3 separate regions of the Homo sapiens genome follow, and regions 1 and 2 are each reported to be linked to region 3. The links are microRNA targets in miRTarBase. Many come from high-throughput screens and were not tested one by one. Region 3 holds a microRNA gene; each other region holds the end of a gene's coding sequence.

What was found. Region 3 holds the annotated microRNA hsa-miR-6823-3p (UGAGCCUCUCCUUCCCUCCAG, at 2,563-2,583, opposite strand). A microRNA usually pairs through its seed, bases 2 to 8, with sites in the 3' UTR of a target mRNA and lowers its output. Matches are read on the target gene's strand: a 7mer-m8 pairs with bases 2 to 8, a 7mer-A1 pairs with bases 2 to 7 and ends in A, and an 8mer does both.
Region 1: the mRNA of PPP1R26 is a reported target of hsa-miR-6823-3p. Seed matches in the 3' UTR shown: 7mer-m8 at 5,514-5,520.
Region 2: the mRNA of CCDC30 is a reported target of hsa-miR-6823-3p. Seed matches in the 3' UTR shown: 7mer-m8 at 4,366-4,372.

What each region holds. Positions count from the first base shown.
Region 1 is chr9:135,486,193-135,494,002 of GRCh38, reverse strand. It overlaps PPP1R26 (protein phosphatase 1 regulatory subunit 26), which reads right to left. Exons shown (of 4, transcript NM_014811.5): 4 at 5,111-7,810. The coding sequence ends at 5,863. Among named protein-coding and RNA genes, the nearest start is that of PIERCE1, 9.8 kb to the left of the region's middle. RefSeq lists enhancers at 2,172-2,882, 2,883-3,593, 4,305-5,016.
Region 2 is chr1:42,653,094-42,660,903 of GRCh38, reverse strand. CCDC30 (coiled-coil domain containing 30) reads right to left here. Exons shown (of 21, transcript NM_001395517.1): 20 at 7,461-7,528; 21 at 3,714-7,086. The coding sequence ends at 6,876. It overlaps PPIH (peptidylprolyl isomerase H), which reads right to left and starts at 2,481. Exons shown (of 10, transcript NM_006347.4): 1 at 2,392-2,481; 2 at 1,996-2,060; 3 at 1,653-1,676; 4 at 1,338-1,382; 5 at 1-42. The coding sequence starts at 2,457. The region is part of intron 1 of LOC124904162 (a long non-coding RNA gene); the gene reads left to right.
Region 3 is chr3:48,547,399-48,555,208 of GRCh38, forward strand. MIR6823 (microRNA 6823) reads right to left here and starts at 2,623; the gene lies at 2,563-2,623. PFKFB4 (6-phosphofructo-2-kinase/fructose-2,6-biphosphatase 4) reads right to left here. Exons shown (of 14, transcript NM_004567.4): 2 at 2,720-2,836; 3 at 2,466-2,562. RefSeq lists enhancers at 3,034-3,697, 3,698-4,359, 4,360-5,023, 5,024-5,685.

The sequences.
Region 1 (7,810 bases), not on the chromosome of region 3:
CCCGGCCGGGCATGGTGGGTGGCTCACACCTTGTAATCCCAGCACTTTGGGAGGCTGAGGTGGGCAGATCACTTGAGGTCAGGTGCTCCAGACCATCCTGACCAACATGGTGAAACCCTGTCTCTACTAAAAATACAAAAATTAGCCAGGGGTGTTGTGGGGTGTGCCTGTAATTCCAGCTACTCGGGAGGCAGAGGCAGGAGAAATGCTTGAACCTGGGAGGCGGAGATTGCAGTGAGCCGAGATCACGCCACTGCACTCCAGCTCAGGCGACAGAGCAAGATTCTGTCTCAAAAAAAAAAAAAAAAAAAAAAAAAAAAAGAATGCATTGCTTCCTCCACAGATGATTTTGAAAAGCACCAGGGTAAGATAAAGCCATCAGTCCAAATGACTGCGTTTGTTTCCCCGCCAGCCTAGAACTGTTGAACACCTGCACTGCTGTAGCAAGATGGCTTCATCCAGGCAAAGTCACGCCTGCAGGCAAAGTCACACCTGATGAAACCACTTCACTCGGATAACACCCCCAATTCTAGCTGAGGCGCTGTCGGGGCCCAGGCTGGGAGTATCAACCAACAGCAACAGGTGCCTCCCTCCTACGGGCTTCACGGGCTCAATTCCGGCATCTCAGTTGGGTGCCGAGTGATTTAGTTGGTCGTGTCTAATAAAATGTTACTTCTGTACAGCTGCTAATGAGCTGATGGAAAGTTAGACTCCACTCATTTATTCTAAATAGAGTAAGCATCTGGAGAGATGAAAAACCCCAATACCTCTGAATTGTGAGCCTGCCTGTCTCCCATGCCCAGGCCCGGGCGTGTGCCCGCCGCTCCGTTTCTTGGCATCTCGCAGTGTTCTAAGGGCTTTGGCATTGTCACCTTGCCCGATCTTCACACCTGGGGCCTCCCTCTCAGATGGGAAACAGAGCCGCATGGAAGGCTGCGAGCCGGCCTCGCTGGAGCCCGCCTTGGGGACATCCTGGAGGCGGGAGGCCATCGGCACTAGAGCCGCAGATTCAGTCCTAACCTACTACGCATTTGTGAGTCATACAGAGCTCCAGGGATCACAAATCTGGAGACCTTCCTCTTTGGAACAGATTTCCAAACTGAAATCTTCACATGCTGAGAAAAATCAAGTCCACTGATCTAACGGAACGCTCAACGGGTGTGTTTTCTGTTTGGGATTAAAGCGTACAGAACGGAGGGTTGCAAAATGAAAAGAAAATGGCACCCATCTATACTGTGTTCTTTCAAAATCTCAGAATTACAGGAAAGGTGACGGAAACACAGTGTAACATCAGTTTGCAGAGATATTTGGAAAAAAAAAAAAAAAAAAAAAGGACACAGCCATTTCTGAAACCCTCTCTCTTCACTCCACAGAGCAGTCTTTGCTTTGTTTAGCCTTTTTATTCCACTCAGAAATTACAAGCTAAGGCTGGGCACAATGGCTCATGCCTGTAATCCCAGCACTTTTGGAGGCTGATGTGGGCGGATCACCTGAGGCCAGAAGTTTGAGACCAGTCTGGCCAACATGGCGAAACCCTGTGTCTACTAAAAATACAAAAATTAGCCAGGAATGGTGGTGCACACCTGTAATCCCAGCTACTCGGGAGGTTGAAGCAGGAGGATTGCTTGAACCCGGGAGGTGGAAGCTGCAGCGAGCCAAGACACCACTGCACTCCAGCTTGGGCAACAGAGTGAGACCCCTTCTCCAAAAAAAAAAAAAAAAAAAAAAAAAAAATTCATGTCGCTTTACTAATCACTGAATTTTACTGCTGGGTTGGTTTAAAACCAGCCACTTCTTAAACGTACATTTTCATTTATATTTCTGTATTTTTCATCAGTAACCTTTATCTTTTCATTACAGTCAATATTAGAATGGTTTCTATTATGTAGTAAAATATCTTGACATTGAAAAAAAAAATCTCTTACATATAGTACACAAAATACCAGAAGCCTCAAAGATTTTGCAAATAATGTGATCTGTCCCCCACCCTCCCCAACAGCCACGCCTGGGAATAAACCTGGTTGTGATTTGCGGATATGGAATGTGGACTTTGTGCTGTTCCCTACGCCCCTTTAAACAGGTCCTTTCATTCGTTTTGAGGGAGGGGGGATCCAGGGGGCAATGCCTTTTACATGTTTATATGAGCAGACAGGTGCTAATAATTACATGTACTGCTTGATTTTCCAAAGCAAATATATCTCAAGCTGGGAAAATCTGCTGTCTGAGCCTTCAGATTCTGAGCGACAGATAAATTAAGGGGGACTCTTCCTTAAAGGAAGCTTCTCCCCCTACATAGGGAGGTGGGTGGAGAATATCAGACATGACCCGCCAGAGCTTTTTCCTTTTCCCATCCCCGTTCCCCGACATCAGGCTGACTCATCCCAGAGGACGAGAAACCTTAAAACCTGGCCTCTCCCGATTATTTGTATTGGATGAAATGGACCCTGGCCCTACTCCCTGGGAAGAGAGGGGCTCTTGGGACATGACTTACCTCTAGGTCTTAATAATTACAGACTTGCAAAGAGCTTGACTTACTGACACACTGTCCGCCGGAGACTCCTACAGGGCGGGCACACATCTACTTACTCCCACAGCGGCGCCGGGCCCGTATTCATGGGATGCAGCCGCGTCGTCACACCCGGATCTGCGGAGGTGCTGGGAGACAGACTGCCAACACAGGGGCGGGCATCCCTCCTGTGCAGCTCCTGGCTGCCCTGACTGCAGCCCCCTCCCATACAGGAAAACCCGCTGGCAGGTGTGGACGAACCTTGGATCTTGGCCTCTTCTCTAAAACAAACAGGACAGTGCAGGGGGTGAAGAAGCACCACTTTCAGGTCACATGGCCCATGGGCAATTCCAGGGAATTCCAGTTTGTGAAGAGAAAGAAGGCACCAACCGACTCATCTCCAGCTGAGTCTTAAAGCACCAGTGACTCCTGAAAGCAGGACAAGAGGAGCTCCAAGGGCAACTGTGATCGGCAGAACAAAGGTGGGAGGAAGCCCCCCCGTGCTCCAGGGAAGACTGGCATGGATCGCCTGTTTTAACCCCATCAGGAGGGCCATTTGGTCGGTATTTAAGCAAGCCACTGTTTGTCACAGCAAAGCCTGATCCCCAAGGGCCTCGGTAAGGAGCTCTGAACTGGGGACATCTTGTGCAGTTTTGAGTCCACCCCACCAGGGTGACCCCCGCGACGACACGGCACCTCTTTACAAAAACTGAAAATGGACCAAAGTGTTCCACAAAGAAATGCAGGTTCCTGGAACATTCTTAGTGAGTGATTAACCCACAGTGACTGTAAGCCAATTGGCAACTGCTCTGCATGTGGATAGGGGATGCCCTACACACATGTACGGGCAGAACACGCTAACTAGAGCTGGTGACCGTGTTACAGATGCCATGTCCCTGAACCTCAGGAGGTCTTCTTTCTGGGGCAGCAGCAGCTCTGACCTGCACTGCTATGTGGAGTGTTGGCAGAGGACATGTGAACGTCAGGGAAGGTGTAAAGGGTCCGGGGTTTGGGGAAGAGATGAGACAAGCGACCCTGGGGTGGGCATGGGGGCAGGAGTGGGAGAGGCTCAGTGCTACGTGCACTGTGGCTGTGGCTCCTCCCCTGGTGGGCCCAGGACAAGGGGGTTGGTTTCCAGCCAACATCCCCACAGGCACTATTTAGAAATATAAATAAGGCCGGGCACGGTGGCGCAAGCCTGTAATCCCAGCACTTTGGGAGGTCCGAGGCAGGCGGATCACCTGAGGTCAAGAGTTTGAGACCAGCCTGAACAACACAGTGAAACCCCTCTCTACTAAAAATCCAAAAATTAGCTGAGTGAGGTGACTCATGCCTGTAGTCCCAGCTACTTGGGAGGCTGAGGCACAAGAATCGCTTGAACCTGGGAAGTGAAGGTTGCATGAGCCAAGATTGCGCCACTGCACTCTAGCCTGGGCGACAGAGTGAGACACCGTCTCAAAAAATAAAAAATAAGAAAAAGCAATATAAATAAAAGAGCATGGATTACATGGAACTGTTTCTCCTGGAAGCACTTAAGTGAAGCAATATGCCACAACGAAGATATCACACACAAAAGACGGGGCTGGACAGGAACAGCAACCACAGGGACCCTCATCACGGCTTCTGACCCAGCAGACGTTGCATCTGTGGATGGCAGGTGGCACATGCCTGCATCTGGATACAAGAGTGAATTCTTGCTAAAACCCAGGGGTGCACAGTGTGTAGACAAGCCACTCGCATGTTCGAATACCAACAAGATTCAGCTCCAAAGAAACCCCGCATGGCAGCTAAGCCACGAGGCTGACCTGGGAAGCTCCAGTGACTCATCAAAGTTTGCTGGACAATTACAATGTAAATGTCACGGCCCATCAGTGCCCAGCACTGCTTCTGTCTCTGTAGTAGCCACGGACACTGCGGTGGCCTCAGAGCAGAAGGCACAGAATACCAGGGCAGCATCACAGGGCACCAACACCAAGGACCTGAGGCCGCCACCTTTAACCACGCCACAGTGCAGGAGAGGGCCCTGTGCATTCTGTCCTGGGAGGCGCCCACAGAAAGCCACCCAAAGGGCTGACGTTGGTGTTCGGGCACACCTCTGACGGGGCTCCTGTTTCTGGAGGGCAGGTATGGAGAACGCTTATCCCCAGGACTGGGTTTTGCACGTCATCTCTGCCCTGGGTGTCTGGGGACCAAAGTTCAAAGCAGTGCTTATTGGTGTGTGCAAGAAAAGAAATTTGTTTTGTTTTGTTTTTTGAGATGGAGTTTCACTCTTGTCACCCAGGCTGGAGTGCAATGGCACGATCTCAGCTCACTGCCACCTCCGCCTCTTGGGTTCAAGTGATTCTCCTTCCTCAGTCTCCTGAGTAGCTGGGATTACAGGCATCCGCCACCATGCCTGGCTAATTTTTGTAGTTTTAGTAGAGACGAGGTTTTGCCATGTTGGCCAGGCTGGTCTCGAACTCCTGACCTCAGGTGATCCGCCCGCCTCAGCCTCCCAAAGTTCTGGGATTACAGGTGTGAGTCACCGCGCCCGGCCAGAGAAAAGGACATTTTAAGTGCACGTGTGTTATCTTTAAGAACCATGATTTAAAAAGAACAGTAACGCCATATAAAAAGAGGTTTATTTCGATGTTAGAATCATCTAGTGATCGAACAAGATTGGACATGAACCCACCCAGGCCCAGGGCTGGGCTGCCGAGCAGCTGCCGCTGACATCTGTGTGGATTTGACATGCAACAGGGAGTAGCCACGTGCTCGCTCGCTGGCCACTGTGCTTCGAAACGTTTTTCCAGCGGACGGCTGTGATTGCAGTTTTCAGATGTGCTCTGGCCTCTAAGGACGTGGGGCCGAGGCGGTGTCCTCTGTATAAAAAGTGCTGTCCTGGGAGCTTCCCAACGGACATCTTGGGGCATCTGAGTGATTCCCAGGGAGGGCAGCTTGGCCTTCCTCAGGCTACCACTGCAGCCACCGCCGGCCATTCTCACCAGCAATCAACCAAAAAGCATCAGAGCCTCTGTGAACCTGGCTGTGATGGTAAGAACCAAATGTTTCCTAAGCTAAGACTTGTATGCAGAACACAGAAAACTGCAGTTAGGAACACCCTACAAAATTGAACAACAGTATTTTCCAAAAATATCTTTTACATCACTTTAAATAATTTACAAAAAGCTACAAAAATCATATTTACCAGGACACGTCTGTTAAATAAAAGTTTCATGTTGGTGTACATATATACAGGGCTATGTATAATAGACTGTTTCCCTTCCTTGCAGCCACGGAACCATCACACACACGCACGGCTACGCCGCTTTCCACGAATGCACGCAACCCAGGACGCGAACCCACAGCTCGAGGGCTTAGACCTTCACTACTGAGCTGCCGCCACTGTCCTCCGTGGAGGTGTCGCTGAAGTCACTGGCGTCACTGCCCAAGGCGTCCTGCTCCTGGTCATCCCTGTTGACCCTTCGTCGATACCTCAGGTCTAAAATGCTTTCCTCCGAGCCCGAGCTCCTCCTGTCATGCAAACTCAGCCCTGCCTGTGCCTTCCTGGTTGGCCAGGGGCCGCCGTCCTTCTTTGCCAGCAAGTGTGGGCTTCCAAAGACAGGGCTGGGTCCGGCCTGGGCCTCCCTGAAGGCCGAGAAGGAGGGGCCCTGCAGAGGCAGCCCCAGGTGGGGGCTGAAGAGGCCAGCCTGCCTGCCCCCCCAGGAGACACCCTTTCCAAAGTGGAAGAGCTGGGTGGACAGCAGCGGCGAGAAGCCCGCAAGGGGCAGGCTGGGCAGGCCCCGGGCGGGGCCCTCGGACCCCTTGTCTCTCTCGCTCCCGACGCCCCCCCTCCACACTGCATCTCTGCCTTCGGAGCGCAGCACCCACGGGCTGGGCAGCCGACTCTGGTGGGCGAAGTCGCTCCAGGGCGGTGTGCGGTCGGCCTGGGCTCCAGCGTCCCTCTCCGCTCCCGGGCTGGGGGTCAGGAAGCTCGGGCTCCCGCAGCCCATGTGAAAGGTTCCTCTGGCGCCTCCTGCCTCGGTGCCCGCTGTGGCACAGCTGGGCAGCTGACCAAAAGCACTTTTGGCAGCAGGCTCAGCCCCTCGTGGGCTCTGGTCTTTGTGAACGTAAACATTTCTCCTGCTCACTGAGAGCCCCTTGGCGGAGACACCGCCGCTGGTGCTCCTGGGCGGCACCGGATCCCCTCGGGCAGGAGCAGCAGGGAGCCCCTTCCCGCCCTGGCTGAACAGACCAGCTGTGCCCTGTGCTCCTGCGCTCTCTGTGCCTCGAAGCCCTTCGGCCAGATGTGGGACCCCCCTGGCCCTCTGGCTGCGTGTGCACACGCCAGGCGGTGGGGCAGGCTCCTTCCTGCACAGCACCTCTGGCCTGGCTGGGCCCCCTGTCCCAAGAGCGGTGGGGCCCTCTGCCTGAACTTCTGAACTGCTCACTGACTCCTTGGCCTTTTCCGCCAAAAACTTCCTAATCTCCAGTTCGATGCTGTCGTTGCTGTCCACTGAACTGCTGTCATCAGACAGGGAGCCGGGGCTGGGAGCTGGGCCCTGGGACTCCCTGGGGAATGGATTCCCTTCGGAGGCAGAGGCGGAGGCGGGTCTCCTCACCCGGAAGGCCAGGGCCGCGTCCTGGCTCGCGGCACCCTCCTGCCTCATCCTCTCTGCCGTGCTGCCAAAGACACTGGGGGGTTTCTTCCCAGGACCCTCGCCACTGTCTCTCTTGGACTTGGAGAGGCAGCTCTTCAGCACTGGCGGGCCCCTGTCTTTCCAGTCTCTCCGGAGCCCGCCCAGCTGCTCCAAGAAGTGCGTCTGGGCTGTGCTGAACCTGACCTTCTTCCTGCACGCAGCCCTGGGCTCCCTGCACCTCTTCTTGAGCTTTCGCTTGGACCTTAACAAGTCCTTGATGGCTGTGTCCAGGTCCTCGTCACTGTCCAGGGAGCTGCTTTTGTCTTCAGAGCTCTCTTTCTCGTCTAGGCGCCTTGCCTCGTCTGTCTTACCCTGGCCCTGTGACATGCGAGTGTCGCCAGGGCCCCTGGCGGTGCCCTCCCCTCCCAGGGCCTCACTGGCTTTGCCCTGGATGGGCAGGTCTCGCCTCTCATGGCCGGGCTCAGCTCTCCCCTGGCTGTGGTCGGCATCCTGGCTACCGTCTTTCACCACCTCCTGCATTTTCTTGGGCGTGGATGGCCTCACATGGCCACCACCTCTACGCTTCCTTTTGCAGCCCAGCAGTGGGTCTGGTGTTTTAGAGAGAGGGGTCTTGTGGCCGCCGGTCTGGCTGTTGAGGCCAGGCGGCAAAAGTGGACCCTGGGCA
Region 2 (7,810 bases), not on the chromosome of region 3:
TTAACAAAATCTCCACCCTGAATCATGAAATCCTTTATGACCCTGAAACAGAGAGCAAAGAATACTGAGAAGATTTTATGGTTTAGAAAAACATAGATGTTGTTATTATTGTATTAGATTAACGTTGATTTCAAAATACACTATCACTTTGGCTATTATAAAATCATTACTCTTAGCTGGGTGCGGTAGCTCACGCCTGTAATCCCAGCAGTTTGGGAGGCCGAGGCAGGCAGATCACATGAGGCCAGGAGTTTGAGACCAGCCTGGCCAACATGGCAAAACCCCGTCTCTACTAAAAATACAAAAATTAGCCGAGCGTGGTGGCACATGCCTGTAGTCCTGGCTACTCGGGAGGCTGAGGCAGAAGAATTGCTTGAACCCAGGAGGCGGAGGTTGCAGTGAGCCAAGATCATGCCACTGCACTTTAGCCTGGGCGACAGAGTGGGACTCTGTCTCAAAAAAACAAAACAAAACAAAAAAAACCTGAAGATTATTCTTTTCCTGAATGATTAAGCTGAAAGGATAATTAACCATAAAAAAGGATTTTCGTTATAAATTAGGGCATGTTAGAGTTGATCAAGTGCATGATCTGGTACCTGAACAGTAATAAGAAGAAGGGGCTGAAAGCTTACTTGCCAAAGCAAAAGGCAGAGCAAGGGTTTGATGTAAATTTGGGGGAAAGAACTACAGAGAATTTATGTGAAATGTACTGCTAAACATGTAAGGGCTTAACAACTGTTAGCTATTACCCCTAGGGAGGGTCCTTAACCTTTCTTATCCTCAGTTTCCTCCTCTGTAGAATGCAGATCACCCATACCACTTCACAGGAGTCTTACTGGGGATTAGAGACCCAAAGCTCTAAAGCTGTGATATAATTATGTGCTAACATTGTTACTAACCACAGTGAGGCCATGAGAAAGATTCTATATTGAAATGAGACTAAGTGTTGACATACTCCACTCCCCAGGAAATATGATTATCCTTGGACAATCATATATGATCATTTTAGGAATTAGTTATAAATATCAACCAGCAGGATATATTATATGCACTTTAGGATTACAAGTGTACTTTTTAAAAAATCTGCATTCGCACAAACAAGTGCATGAAAAAGACAAGATATTGTAAAGATGAGTAGTTTCTGTTTTAAAGACCTAAGAAGTGGGGGAGTGTAAGTAGAGTTAGAACATTTAATAAATCTTCAGTTGTTGAGTCCACAAAAACATTTCTTCTCAAGAAATGTAAGAATTACCCTCTGGTTTTATTTTCCTCTAAAGAGCCTAATCCCCCAGGAAATATTTCTGAAAGACTCCAGGATGGCTTGCCAAGAGCCTTACCTGTGGAAGGTGCTTCCTTTGTATCCTATTGGAACCCCATCTTTCCTATAACCGAAAAGAAAGAGACTTGGAGTGACAGCAGGTAGCACAAGGCCTTTCCAGTTTACCATGCACTGGAGCCAAAAGGACTCTCCTAAAGATGGTTGACAGACATAAAGAAGGCAAATAAACTAGGGACAGACCCTTGGGGCATTACCTTCTATCACTGTCACCAGCAATCATTCAAGGCCAGCAGGTGGTTCACCGATACCCTCACTGCAGCCCCAGAACACCCCTCTGGAGCAGGCAAAGAAGTCAAACACATCTGAAACTGACCTGAATTCTCCGGTGCAGAACTGCCTGAAAGGGACAAAAAATGAATGATTCAATCACTATGATGTCACAGTCGTGAGCGCCTCTAAATACGGGAAAGAATAAACACTGGAGCCAGCAAGTCCACCAATCGGCCAGCCAGACGTCCAGACACGCAGTCACACAGACTAACAACGTAAATTAACACGGGAACAATCCAAACGGCAACCAGACAGAGCAATGCATGGAGGAATCAGGTCTCAAGAGCAGTGAGCGGACGGACAGAGGTAGACAGGCTATTTCAGGCGGCTGACTGGAGCCCGACTTCTGCCTCAGCTAATCCAGCGGAGCTGGAGCACGTCCTTACCTAAAGTTCTCGGCCGTCTTAGGCACAACGTCTGCAAAGAGCTCGATCTTCATGCGGCCAACTTCCTGCAATCAGCGGGAGAGTGTCAGAAGGCCCAGTCCAAGACCATGAGGGCTTCACGGAGCAGGGGGCATGATGGGCTGACCCACCACCCTGCCGCTCGGTATCTCCCACCTCCGCCTCCCTAGTCTAACCGCCCAGTTCCTCCAGAAGCGGGGCGCTAGGATTGGGGAGACTCCTCCTCCTCCTTTCCCCCCGCCCGGCAGGTCGGTAGGTTCGGGTGCAATTTCACTTTCTGGCTGGCTTCCCGAGTCCGCTCTCTCTGGGTGAGTTCTGCCTGCCTAGCCCCGAGCAGTTTCCCTTCGGCGCAGGTGTGGGCAGCCTCCTGGATCTCACCTGACCGCCAATACTGACATCAAAGAACACCACGGGGTTAACAGGACTTGAATTTGCCACCGCCATGGCTCCGACCCGGAAGCAGAAGTCGGGAGCGTGGGATTCCGGCGAACCTAAAGCCCGGTCCGCGGATTTCGTCCGGGGAGCAGGCGCGGTAGACGTGGAGCGAGACCAGGCTCCGCCCCCGGAAGCTGTCGCCCCGTGCGGTGTGTGCTGAGACTGCTAGGGTCTAGCTGAGAGACTCTGCCTGGCACTGGGGACGCGGGAGTGAGGAGGAGGAAAGCCTTGACATCTTTTTGGTTAAGGTCAATGGTCACCCCACTCACGTGGCTGTACTAAGGGCAGTACAAGTTGATCTTGCTCTAGCTAGGACTTTTGGACTAGGCAGTCGCCAGGGTCCTCCTTATCGGCTCTTGCAGCCAAGCCCTCTGCACCGCCACACGTGCTGTCTGTCTTCTGCCCGCTAGTGTGAACACCGTGAAGGCAGGAACTCTGGTTTGTTCATCCTCAGCGTTTAGAACAGCTTGGCACGTACAGGCTTGCTAAGTAAATATCCCTTCCTCTAAGTCAGGACAATAGATAATGTTTGTTCTGCCACAAAAGCTACCAGTTTTGTCATTTCCAATTCATTTCCCATAAAGCAACTAGAGTTTTTTATTTTTTATTTTTAAAATAACTCTTGTGCTTCCTATTTATTTTAAAAATAACTCCTGGCTTCCCATATTTAGAATAAAATCCAATTCCGTGCATACGAAGCCCTACAGTGCATTTATCTGGCTATCACGTACCTGACCTCATCTTGTACCACTTGCCCTTAGTTACTGTGCTCTGACCTGTCTGTTCCTCCAGGTCACTGAGATCCCTCCTCTCTTTAGGGCTTTGTAATAGCTGTTACTTCTGTCTGAAATATTCCTTCCAGAACTTAATGTGGGTTGGCGGGGGATTGTGGGGGTTGGTTGGGGTATGCGTGTGGGAAGTAATGCTCCTTGTAGTTCAGGGCTCACCCCAGATGTTACCTCCTGAGAGGCAACATTAGACCTAATCTAAAGTAGCCCTTGGTCATTCAGATCACTGGTTTGTTTTCTTCATGCCACCCCCACTTCCACATTATCTTCGTATGGTATGTGTCTACACCTCATTTCCTGCCACACACACATAATCTTCCTCCCTGATAGCATATAAACTCCATGAAAGTAGAGACTCTCCTGGTCCTATTCGCAGCTGTAGCTGCAATGTCGCCTACTGAATAGCATATAGTAGGTATTCAATAAATAATAGATGCAATGAATTTAGTGAAAGAAGGGGACCTTGGGCAAGGCTCATTCAATATAACAGCATGCATTTAATAAAATAGTTATTATTTCCTAGTTCCTATGATCATCTTTCTAGCTCTGTTGTCTGAGAAAGCAAGGATTACATATAAAAATACAGTGTGTCTCAATGTAAAGGGTCATTTTTATTTCTGGTTACTGATCCTCTCCTCTTGGTCTCCTCCAACTGAAAAAGAAGAAAGGGGAGGAGGGGGAAAAGGAACAGCAGCAGTCACGCTTCAGTATAATTTTATACCAACTGTTTTAGAATAAATCTTTAAAATTGATAATATCCAATGTTGATGAGGTTGTGAAAAAAATAGTACATTGATAAACCTCTAGTGAAAATAAATGATGATAGCATTTATTAAGCAGTTACTACGTGCTAAATACTTTACATGCTTCATTTCATTTGGTCCTCACAACCCTATGGGATAGAGAACTATTATTGTTCCCATTTTAGGAATCAAGAAATTGAGGCTCAAGGAGGTTGAGTAACTTGACTATGAAAACAGTATGTTGACACACTTTTTATTTATTTTATTATTTATGTATTTATTATTATTATTTTTTGAGACAGAGTCTCACTTTTTGCCCAGGCTGGAGTACAGTGGAGTGGTCTCAGCTCACTGAAACTTCTACCTCTTGGGTTCAGGTGATTCTCGAGCCTCAGCCTCCCGCATAGCAGGGACTACAGGTGTGCACCACCATACCCGGCTAATTTTTGTATTTTTAGTAGAGACAGGGCTTTGCCATGTTGGCCTGGCTGGTCTTGAACTCCTGGCCTCAAGTGATCCACCTGCCTCGGCCTCCCAAAATGCTGGGATTATAGGCGTGAGCCACCGCACCTGGTCAGGCAGAACCCTTTTTTAAAGCAAAGGAAGTGATGTCCTAGAGCAATATTAACATTTATATCCTTTGACTCAGTCCAATCTTGCGAATTTGTTTTCTGGAGTAATTCAAAAGAAGAAAAGAACTACATGCACAAAGACCTTCAACACAGCATAATCTTAAATAGTAACAAAGTAAAACCAGGCCTGGCATAGAGGCTCATCCTATAATCCTATCACCTAGGAGGCTTAGGTGGGAGGATCACTTGAGCCCAGAAATTTGAGACCAGCTTGAACAATAGAGTGAGAGTGAGACCTCGTCTTTACAAAAAGTACAAAAATGAGCCAGGCATGGTAGCACATGCCTGTACTTGGGAGAGGCTGAGGAGAGAGGATCACTTAAGCATGGGAGGTTGAGGCTGCATGAGCAGTAATCAAACCACTGCACTCCAGCCTGGGTTACAAAGTGAGACCCTGTCTCAAAAAAAAAAAAAAAAAAAAAAAAGTAAAAACAGCTTAAATGCCAAACAAGAGAACGTTTAATTTATAGAACATCCACATCCTCAGAGATACTGAGCAGTACTGTTCCACCCTGATAGATGAAATGGATGTGAATGTTGCTGATCTTTTCTGAAGAAGCAGTCCCACTACACTAAAGATGAGCTGGAGACTGTTCACCTACTTTGTACTCCTGTTTGGAAATATTTAGGGGTAGTTTCTGTGTAATGGGGTTTATGTGAACTCTCTTCTCATACCCCCTCCCCCAGGAAAAGCTCTTGGTATTTTCCTATCCACTTTTATTTTATTTTATTTTATTTATTTTTTCGAGATGGAGTCTTGCTCTGTCACCCAGGCTGGAGTGCACTGGTGCAGTCTCGGCTCACTGCAACCTCTGCCTCTCGGGTTCAAGTGATTCTCCTGCCTCAGCCTCCCCAGTAGCTGGGACTACAGGCGCGCGCACTACCACACCTGGCTAATTGTTTTTGTATTTTTGTTAGAGACGGGGTTTCCCTAAGTTGGCCAAGCTGGTCTCGAACTCCTGACCTCAGGTGATCTGCCCACCTCGGCCTCCCAAAGTGCTGGGATCACAGGTGTAAGCCACCACGCCCAACCTCCTATCCACTTTTAAATAATGTATTGCTCTAAATCTTCTTCATTAAACATTTAAAACTTTTCCCATAAAAATAATTATAGAACATCAACATGATTGAATATCATATGGCGATTGAAAATGTTTCCATGGTATATACAGTAAATTAAAAATCAAACTGTGAAAATGAATATACAATATTATAATAACCACTTAGAATATATGTACTTGAATTAGGACCAAAAGGGAATAACTGTAAAATAAAATTAGTTGTGTTAAGACTGTGGTATTGGTGTAATCCCAGCACTTTGGGAGGCTGAGGTGGGTGGATCACCTGAGGTCAGGAGTTCAAGACCAGCATGGCCAACATGGTGAAACCTTGTCTCTACTAAAAATACAAAAATTAGCTGGGCATGGTGGCGGGCACCTATAATCCCAGCTACTTGGGAGGCTGAGGCAGGAGAATTGGTTGAACCTGGGAGGCAGAGGTTGCAGTGAGCGGAGATCATGCCACTGCACTTCAGCCTGGGTGACAGAGTAAGAGACTCCGTCTCAAAAAAAAAAAAAAAAGCTTATGGTATTATAGGAGGGTTTTTGTTTTTGTTTTTTGCTTTTTTTGAGACGGAGTCTCACTCTGTCACCCAGGCTGGAGTGCAGTGGTGCTATCGCAGGTTCACGCCATTCTCCTGCCTCAGCCTTCTGAGTAGCTGGGACTACAGGCACCCGCCACCACACTCGGTTAATTTTTTTGTATTTTTAGTAGAGACAGGGTTTCACCGTGTTAGCCAGGATGGTCTCGATCTCCTGACCTCGTGATCCACCCACCTCAGCCTCCCAAAGTGCTGGGATTATAGGCGTGAGCCACCACGCCCAGCATAGGAGGGTTTTTTTAAAAACAAAATTTGCTTTAATGTGACTGTATTGTTTTTACTGTTAAAAAATAAATCAGAAAAGATACCCATGATAATGGGAAAGAATGTTGAATTAACCCTACATGTGCTCTGCTGAAGAGAAACCTAAATAAATCATTGAACTAAAGTCAATATTTTGGTCAATACAAGGCATCTGAGGATATCAAACAAACTTGAGAAATCCATTTTTACAACTGCTTTAATGAATTTATCAGCAGTTTTGAAGACTCTTGGGTGATATCCATTTGGGATCTGTGGTAACTCTTCTCAATGTCATGGTCCACCTTTTGTCCAGGCTTTAAATTACCACTTTTGTTCAGTATAGCTTTAGGCACCAGTGATTTTATAGTTCTGACTTTTGGTCTTGTTCTTGTATACCATGTGTCTCCTTCAGAGAAGCCACATTTATGTATCCAGCCTCAGAATTCTGTGAACACACAAGATTCTCAGGAGACTTTTCAGGGGACTTTGAACTTGCCATTGCTTCTTTTGACTTGATCTCTTCAGTCTCTTGAAGACTTGCAAATGACTCTACCAAACCTTTTCCTGAAAAACTAAGAAATGCCATATGTGAGGACATCATGTACATAGAGTTTGTTGGTAGCAGTTCGGGGTTACAGGGATACAGGCATTGATAGAATTTCAATTTTTTGCAACTGTTACACAAAGCCAAATAAAATTTACCTTAAACCTATGTTCATATTTTATTTCCTACCTTAAGTCAGGATTCTGTGGGGTTTAGAGTTGAAGGAGTGGCAAGGGGAGGAATTGGAAGAAGATTCAAATAATTCATGTAGAGAAAATGACCCCAGAAAGCTATGCCTTCTCAAGCCAGCAATCCAGGACTAGTTAGGCAGCCATGACTCTCAGGCATGGCTGACAGTCCATCTCAGATAGACTTGACTTTATTTGTCTTGACTTTACTAACCTGGAGTTTGATAAAGGCAATATTTCATTCACTACTTCGGATTCAAGGATGTCACTAATTGTTGTTTCCTAAAAGGAAAGAAAGGATGAATGTGAAAAGTTATAATGATAAACCATTAGCTATATGATCCTAGAAAAAAATATATATATAATAGATACAATACCTGCACATAGTACAAACAATGAAAAACATAAAAGGGTACAGAATGAAAAGCTGGTTGCCCTCTCTCTCTCTATATATATAACCTATCTATATTTATCTATAGACGATCTATCTATATCTGTCTATCTAGTTTTACACACATGGTACTATACATACTATCTTCACCTTGCTTCTTTTGTTATATAAAT
Region 3 (7,810 bases):
AGGGGGCTTGTGTGTGGTATAGGACTGTGTGCAGGAGTATGAGTGTGCCTGTTTAGAATATGTGTACTTATGCCCTTGCATACACTTTGTTTTTGAGACAGAGTCTTACTCTGTCACCCAGGCTGGAGCACAGAGACGCAATCTTGGCTCATTGCAACCTCCACCTCCCAGATTCAAGCAATTCTCATGCCTCAGCCTCCTGATGTAGCTGGGATGACAGGCGCCCCACCACATGTGGCTAATTTTTGTAATTTTAGTAGAGATGGGGTTTTGCCATGTTGGCCAGGCTGGTCTCAAACTCCTGGCCTCAAGTGATCCACCCACCTCGGCCTCCCAAAGTGCTGGGATTACAGGCGTGAATCACTGCACCCGGCCTTGCACGCACTTTTCTAGATCTTCTGCTGTGTCCAGTGTCAGAGATGGACCTCAACACTGTGTGAGTAACTGGGCCTCTGGGAAATGCAGCTGTCTCTTCCCAGGTTTTCCATTTTAAAAACTCTGGTCCTTTTATTTTGCTAATTGGGAAATTTTGGGCTGATTAATAGGAGATGGCCCTGTGGCCCAGCCAGAGCCAGGATTCGGATACAGCAGAGAGGGTTTCTAGGGCAGCCAGAGGGTATGCCTGCAGAAAGGCAGCAATGAGCCTGTCCCCAGCTTCTGTTGCAGGGTGACCTTGGACTAGCTTCCCAACCTCTCTGAGTCTAGGTCTCTTCATTTGAATTAATCCCAAATATCCCTACCTTAGGGGGACAGCCAGAGTGGAACAGCTGGCAGACTCTCCCCACAAACACTATGGATTCAGGCAGGACGGACTTCAAATTCAAACCCTGAGTGACCCAAGGCACCCCCATCACTTTCTGGCCTTGGTCCCAGCATCTGGAAAAGTGAGGCACCGCCCACCACAGAAGCTGCTGGGAAGATCAGACAGTAGGCTATCAGCGTCCACAGCTTGGGGTTGTTGGCTGAGGCAGAAGAATTGCTTGAACCTGGGAGGCGGAGGTTGCAGTCAGCTGAGATTGCACTACTACATTCCAGCCTGGGCGACAGAGTGAGACTCCATCACACACACACACAAATAATAATAATTTTTAAAATAAATAAATAAAATTTGCATTTGATGTTCCTTGACCTACCTATTGAGGAATATTGGAATGATGGACACTTTTTAGCGGTGGATGGGCTTAGATTCAAGTCTGGGCGCTGATGTAAACTTGCTATTTTGTGCGAGACTCCTGGCCTGTCTGAGCCTCAGTTTCCTCATCTGTAAAAGTAGGGGGTGACAATGGGCATCAAGAACCCAGCACACGGTAGGTTCAGACATTAGTCCTCTACTTTTTATCTGGCTCAATATAACCAGAGGGTCCAGCCTTGATTTTTACCCACAATTTGGCCATAGAAACCTGAATATCAGGCTCCCCTTCCCTTCTTGGTGCCACAGCCTGGCCCAGCCACACCGATGCAAGAACAAAGGCAGTCTCCAGTCTGAAGGTCCAAGCCCCACAGCAGGGAGTTCCTGCCCCCTGGTGGCCAGAGAAGGAACGGGTAGCCTAGTGTGGACCCCAGTGGCAGCCTGGTAGCCACTGGGCTTGATTTGGGGAAGTCACTAGAGCTGGGTCAACCTCTGCTCACTGCCCTATCCTGATGGCTGGGCCAAGAGCAAGTCTCTGCCACCCTAGGTTGATAAGGGGCTTCTCAAGACCACAGCTAACACCTCCTGAGAAAAGCACAGCATGGCTGCTCAGACCACCAGCTGGTGCTCAGTTCCTTGAAGAAAGGACTCAGTTCAAGTCTGAAAGTTGTTGAGGGTGGGGCGGTAGCATATACATATTTCTATCTCCAGAGTAACAGCAGAAGTGTGAACGACTCACCCAGCAGCATCTAGGAGATGTCAATGCAAAGCCAATCGCACCAGCAATCACACACCAAGAACATGCTCCAAATACACAGGAGAGAGCTTATCCTGGGGCAAGGGAGGAAGCCCCCCACCCCCAGCTCCATCCCTAAGGCCTGTATGCCTGCACTCACTCAGGTTCCCTTCCCCAGCAGCAGCCATCCCCACGGGGCGCTGGGGTGAGCGAGCGTGACCTCCAGGCAGCAGCTCCAACGACCTGCATGGGCTGAGCCCCTCTTACCTCCCTGAAGCTCTGTCCTTCCCAAGGGTTCCTTAACCCCAGGGCAGGAATGGCCCAGCCACCAGGAGGCCACACAACACACCCTCTCCTCTCATCCCCAAACCCATCACCTCCCACCCCCACCACATCCTGAGAGATCCAGAGACCAGCCTTGTCACACAGCCCTGTCACACAGCCATCAGGGCTGGGCAAGGCCAGGGCTCAGGAGTAGCTCAGTCATTCACCAGCAGCTCCACTCCAGGGGCTTCTCAGTAAATGGTCAGTAATGTGTTAGCTTTCTCCACACTGGGTCCCCCAGCAACCTCTCCCCCCACACCCAACACATATACTTACTTCCTGATTTTCAGGCCCTCTTCATTGTCGGGGAGAAAAAATTCAAAAGATTTGTAGGTCTTGACCACGTCCCGGCGATACTGGCCAACATTGAACTCTGGAGGGAAGGAGAGGCTCAGCTTTCACAGCAACAGCAACCCCTACCAACCCTGACCTTGACCCAACCCCAGGCCAAATAATAGAGAATAGGCCTTCTCTATTCTCTTCGTCATGCCCCACAAAGCTCCCCTTAGACAGCTGGGGCCAAGCCTCACCCCGAGTGGGCACACCAATCCAGTTCAGGTATCGAGTCAGCTTCTTGGAGATGTAGGTCTTGCCCCTGGCGGGCAGGCCCACCATGACAATGAGAGTTGGGCAGTTGGTCATGCACACTAAAAGGCAAGCAGCACAGTGTCAGATGAGGGCTGGGACCCTCCCAGCGCACCCCTCCCTCTCAGCCTGTGGTCTCTCAGCCTCAGGGCATGGGACTGGCATCAGACGTATCTTCTTGGCTTCCTAGCATCCCCACACAGCTCCTGGAGTGGCCCCAGATGCTGGTTTCAAGCCACCGTTGGCATGTCCCCCTTCCCCAGGCCCGCCTGGGCTCTGGCAGACACAGTGGGATCTCTCCAGCCCTTTTCATCCTGATGTGCACCACCAGGCATAAAGTCAACCGAACTTGCCACTGGCTAAACATGGCTAGGGGGGTCCCCACCGCATGAAGGACAGGACCAAAACCCAGCAGGGTAATCAACACCCTGCCTCTGTCATCCAGGAATCCATACCCTAACCTTTTTACATCTCTCCCACCCCATCCATCACTCAGTGCTCCCAGAACACATAGCCCCACTGCATGCCCTCCCTGTGGTGAACTTCTTTTCATCATACAAAGCCCAGCTAAAAAGTCACTTCCTCAATGAGTCCTTTCCCCAAGGCATCTCCATGGCCACCGGGAACACCCCTCACCCTCAATCCTGGTCACCTCACTAATGACACTCTTCTCTCTAGACTGATCACTTACAGCAGAAGAAGCCCTGTGGTATCTGAGCCCTTTAGGGCCCTGGGGCCTGGCACAGCGCTGGTGCTCAGGAACTGTGGGCAGGATCAGGGAGGGAGGCATCTAGAAGTCTCTCAGGGTAAGGACCACAAGGGGTTGAGACCAGAGACCCAGACTGATGCCCACAAGGACAGTCCCTCTGATAGCCCACCCACCACCATCCATGTGCCACAGGTCAGTGTGCCAGCCAGAGAAGATGCCAGGCTAGAGGCACGGAAGGATCTGAATACAGCCCCCTATATTCCCAGCTGGCTAGAACAGATACCAAGGCAGCAGAACTGCCAGCTTCATCTTATGGGACCTAGCTCACTTTTCTTTTTTTTTTTTTTTTTTTGAGACGGAGTCTCACTCTGTTGCCCAGGCTGGAGGGCAGTGGTGCGATCTTGGCTCACTGCAACCTCTGCCTCCCAGGTTCAAGCGATTCTCCTGCCTCAGCCTCCCAAGTATCTAGGATTACAGACACCTGCCACCACACCTGGCTAATTTTTGTATTTTCAGTAGAGACGGGGTTTCGGCATGTTGGTCAGGCTGGTCTCAAAACTCCTGACCTCAGGTGATCCGACTGCCTGGGCCTCCCAAAGTGCTGGGATTACAGGTGTGAGCCATCACCTCCAGCCTTCTTTTTTTTTTTTTTTTTTTTTTTTTTTTTTTTTGAGAGGGAGTCTCGCTCTGTCGCCCTTGCCCAGGCTGGAGTGCTGGAGGACACTGGTACCCAGCTCACTGCAACCTCTGCCTCCCGGGCTCAAGCAATTCTCGTGCCTCAGCCTCTCAAGTAGCTGGGATTACAAGCACATGCCACCACACCTGGCTAATTTTTGTATTTTCAGTAGAGACAGGATTTCATTATGTTAGTCAGGCTGGTCTCGAATTCCTGACCTCAGGTGATCTGCCTGCCTCGTCCTCCCAAAGTGCTGGGATTACAGGCGTGAGCCCAGCCCTCAGCTCAGTTTCCAGTGCCATCAAACGCGGTCTCACGTCAGAAGCCTCAGGAAGCTTCCTTTTCCTCATCCTTAGGACCTGGGTCAGGTAAAACCATAGCAGACAGGCAGATGAACAGATGTGGGGACCTGTCACTGCCCCTCTTCTTGGTTCTGCAAGTGCCTTCACCTGGTTGCCTAGACAGACTGTCCCCACCAACAAGTTGTTTCCCTCAGAGCACAGAGGCCCCAGAAGCACTTCCGCAGGGGATCAGGAGTCAGGCCTGGGTTGCCATCTTGAGTCTGACACTCATTGGGAACTCTGAGCCTCGGTGTCCCCAGCTGTAAAATGGGGCAGTCATCCCTCAGAGAAGCCTAGTGCTATCCAAGAGCCTGGGCACTTCTGGGAAGCTGTGCCCTCTGTCCTACCCTGGCGGATACTGAGCTAAAGCCATAGGTGTACCTCGGCACCGACTGCCCTTGGGACTCAGGGCATGGAGGCGGTGGCCTGGCCCCAGGCAGGCCCTGCAGAGAAACAAAGGGCCTTGCTTGCCAGTGGGGGCTCCATCACTCCTGTGCATTCCCCTTGTTTAAAGGTGACCCAAATGGTGAGCCTCAGGGGCGGGAAGGAGGAGACCCCATGAAACAGGCTGACTGAGTGAGAGTGGAGAAACTTGCAGAGAACTCTCAGTATTAGCTAAGGTGAGAGGAAAACAAGTTAGGCAAGGCCTTGCCTCCTCAGGGCCGGTGGACAGCTGAGGCCCGCATTGTGCATTGTTTGCATAGTTCCCGGCCAGGTGGCCGGGCTCTCAAGCAACCAAGGGCAGTGCGACAGCTGCTAAGCAGGAGGAAATCCTGCATCTACCCTGCTCCCGCTGATGGGGCCACCCCCCAACTGCTCCTTCAGGGACTCCCAAAACCTCAGGACTGGGGATCTGCACCCCCTCTCCACATCTCCTATTTTCCCAGAGACAGCTCCAGCCTCCTCCCATGGCATTTGGTGGCATTTCCCTTCCCGCCTTCCACCCACATGCGCAGCACAAGGTGGGCAGGCAGGGCAGCAAATCAGGCCTGGGTGCAAAACAAGGCAATAAATTACCTATCTCCTCTGCTCCCCAAGATAAGCTCCCAAGGAAATGACCCAAAAGAAAACCAAAGTTCAAGTGTATCACAACAGCTCTGCTTACCATAGCAAAACACTGGGAAATTCCAGCCATAAGAAATTGCCAACTGAGGCACAACAAGGAGGGAACACATTGCAGCTCTCAAAACAGAGCACGTGGACTAAGCGGGCTGGGTGCACGGCTGCACCTGTGGCTCTGAGCCCACAGGACCCTGACACTGAGCAAACAGGATGGTAGAATACACTGTTTATAGCTGGGCGTGATGGCACATGCCTGTAATCCCAGCACTTTGGGAGGCCGAGGCAGGCAGATCACCTGAGGTCAGGAGTTCGAGACCAGCTTGGCCAACATGGTGAAACCCTGTCTCTACTAAAAATACAAAAATTAGCCGGGTGTGGTGGTGCACACCTGTAATCCCAGCTACTCGGGAAGCTGAGACAGGAGAATTGCTTTAACACAGGAGGCAGAGGTTGCAGTGAGCCAAGATTGTGCCACTGCACTCCAGCCTGGGGGACAAAGCAAGACTGTCTCCAAAAAAAAAAAAGAACACACTGTTTATAACATTGAGCATGTGCGGAAGGAAATGTGAAGACATGTCAGCCCAACTTCCCTCATGGGTTCCTTTCCTGTAAATTCGCTGCAGGCCCCATGAGCTCTAGGAGCGAAGGGGCCCAAGGGGCCTGAGACGTGCCTGGCAATGGGCAGTGTCTATGTTCCATTACTTCTACCCAAGGAGCAGCCACAAGTCCCTGGAGGGGGTGCCAGAATTGACTCCTGAACTGCAACTGCTCTCACCTCCTTAGGCCAGGCTAGGGAAGGAAGAGCTCTTTAAAATAAAGTAACGTGCCATGGAGGCCCTTTTCAGAGGGGACTGAAAGTCATCTCTCCTGTTGCCCTGTGCACACACCAGTCATGTCCTTACCCAGGAAGAGTCTTGCCACCTTTCAGCTGAGAAAAGCCATCAAACACCGTCCTTTCTGCAGTCCTTCTTGAGTCAGCTCTTGCCCCACCTGCCCTCAGAGTTCCTCCAGGTCTGAGCTCGGAGGCCAATGATGGGAAAGGTAAAAGCCTCCCAAGCCCTCAGGTGTGGCTTTAAATTTTATCAAGCGGGGGCGTGCCTGTGGGAGTGGAGGAGGTGCAGTACATCCCTCAGTCCACCAGCCCCTAGTGCCCTGAGGAGCTGGGGACTAGACTCCAGAGAAAACCCAGTACAAAGCACAGACCAGCAGTGGGTCCTGCTTCTTCCTCCCCACAAAGCCCTGGGACCAAATCCGCTTCCATCCCCACCCACACCCTCCGGGTCCAGACTGTCCTTGCAGTCACTCAACCTACAAGTCTACTATGCAAAGGGTAAAGTGTTGCCCAAATGCAGGCACTGGGAGCTGGAGGTGCTGCATGGGCGGGTTCCATGTTCATTCACTGCTTACCCACTCCCTGCTGTGAACCCTGAGGCCCAAATCCCCAAACAACCTGCAGGTCTCATCTTTGGCCTCTCAGGTGCTACCTCCTCCTCCAGGAAAAAGTGCGGACCTAGAACCCAGCCTACCCCAACACCCTGAGACACCGTGATGGCACGAGCCCCTCAGCTCAGGCCAGAGCCACATTTCAGTTCCACACTTAGAGCCTGGAGAAACACAAGCCCTGCCTCAGGAGCTATGAGACCTTCCCATTGGGCCTCAGCTTCCTCTCACCTGTAACGGGGGTTGGCTTGGAGCTGATGCATCAATCCCTGACTCAGACGTAGTGAGAAGCAAAGAAAGAATGGTAGTGATGACAGAATACCCTGCCTCCGCTTATTGAGGACCTACTCCTTAAAGGCTCACAGACTTGGCTAGGCATGGCAGCTCATGCCTGTAATCCCAACACTTTGGGAGGCCAAGGGGGGCAGATCATTAGAGATAACGAATTCAAGACGAGCCTGGCCAACATGGTGAAACTCCATCCTACTAAAAATACAAAATTAGCCGGCCATGGTGGCGCATACCTGTAATCCCAGCAACTTGGAAGGCTGAGGCAGGAGAATTGCTTGAACCCAGGAGGTAGAGGTTGCAGTGAGCTGAGATAGGACCACTGCACTACAACCTGGGCAACAAGAGTGAAACTCCGTCTCAAAAAAAAAAAAAAAAAAAAAGTCCAGGTCCTCACTCCTTTCCCCTATGTAGTAATAGCAGCCACCCCCCTAAGTCAGGACCACACAGCCCTAATAACACAGACTGGCTCAGCCTCCCCGCCTCCAGAAGAGTCTCAAAGGAGGGGTGGCCATAGCCC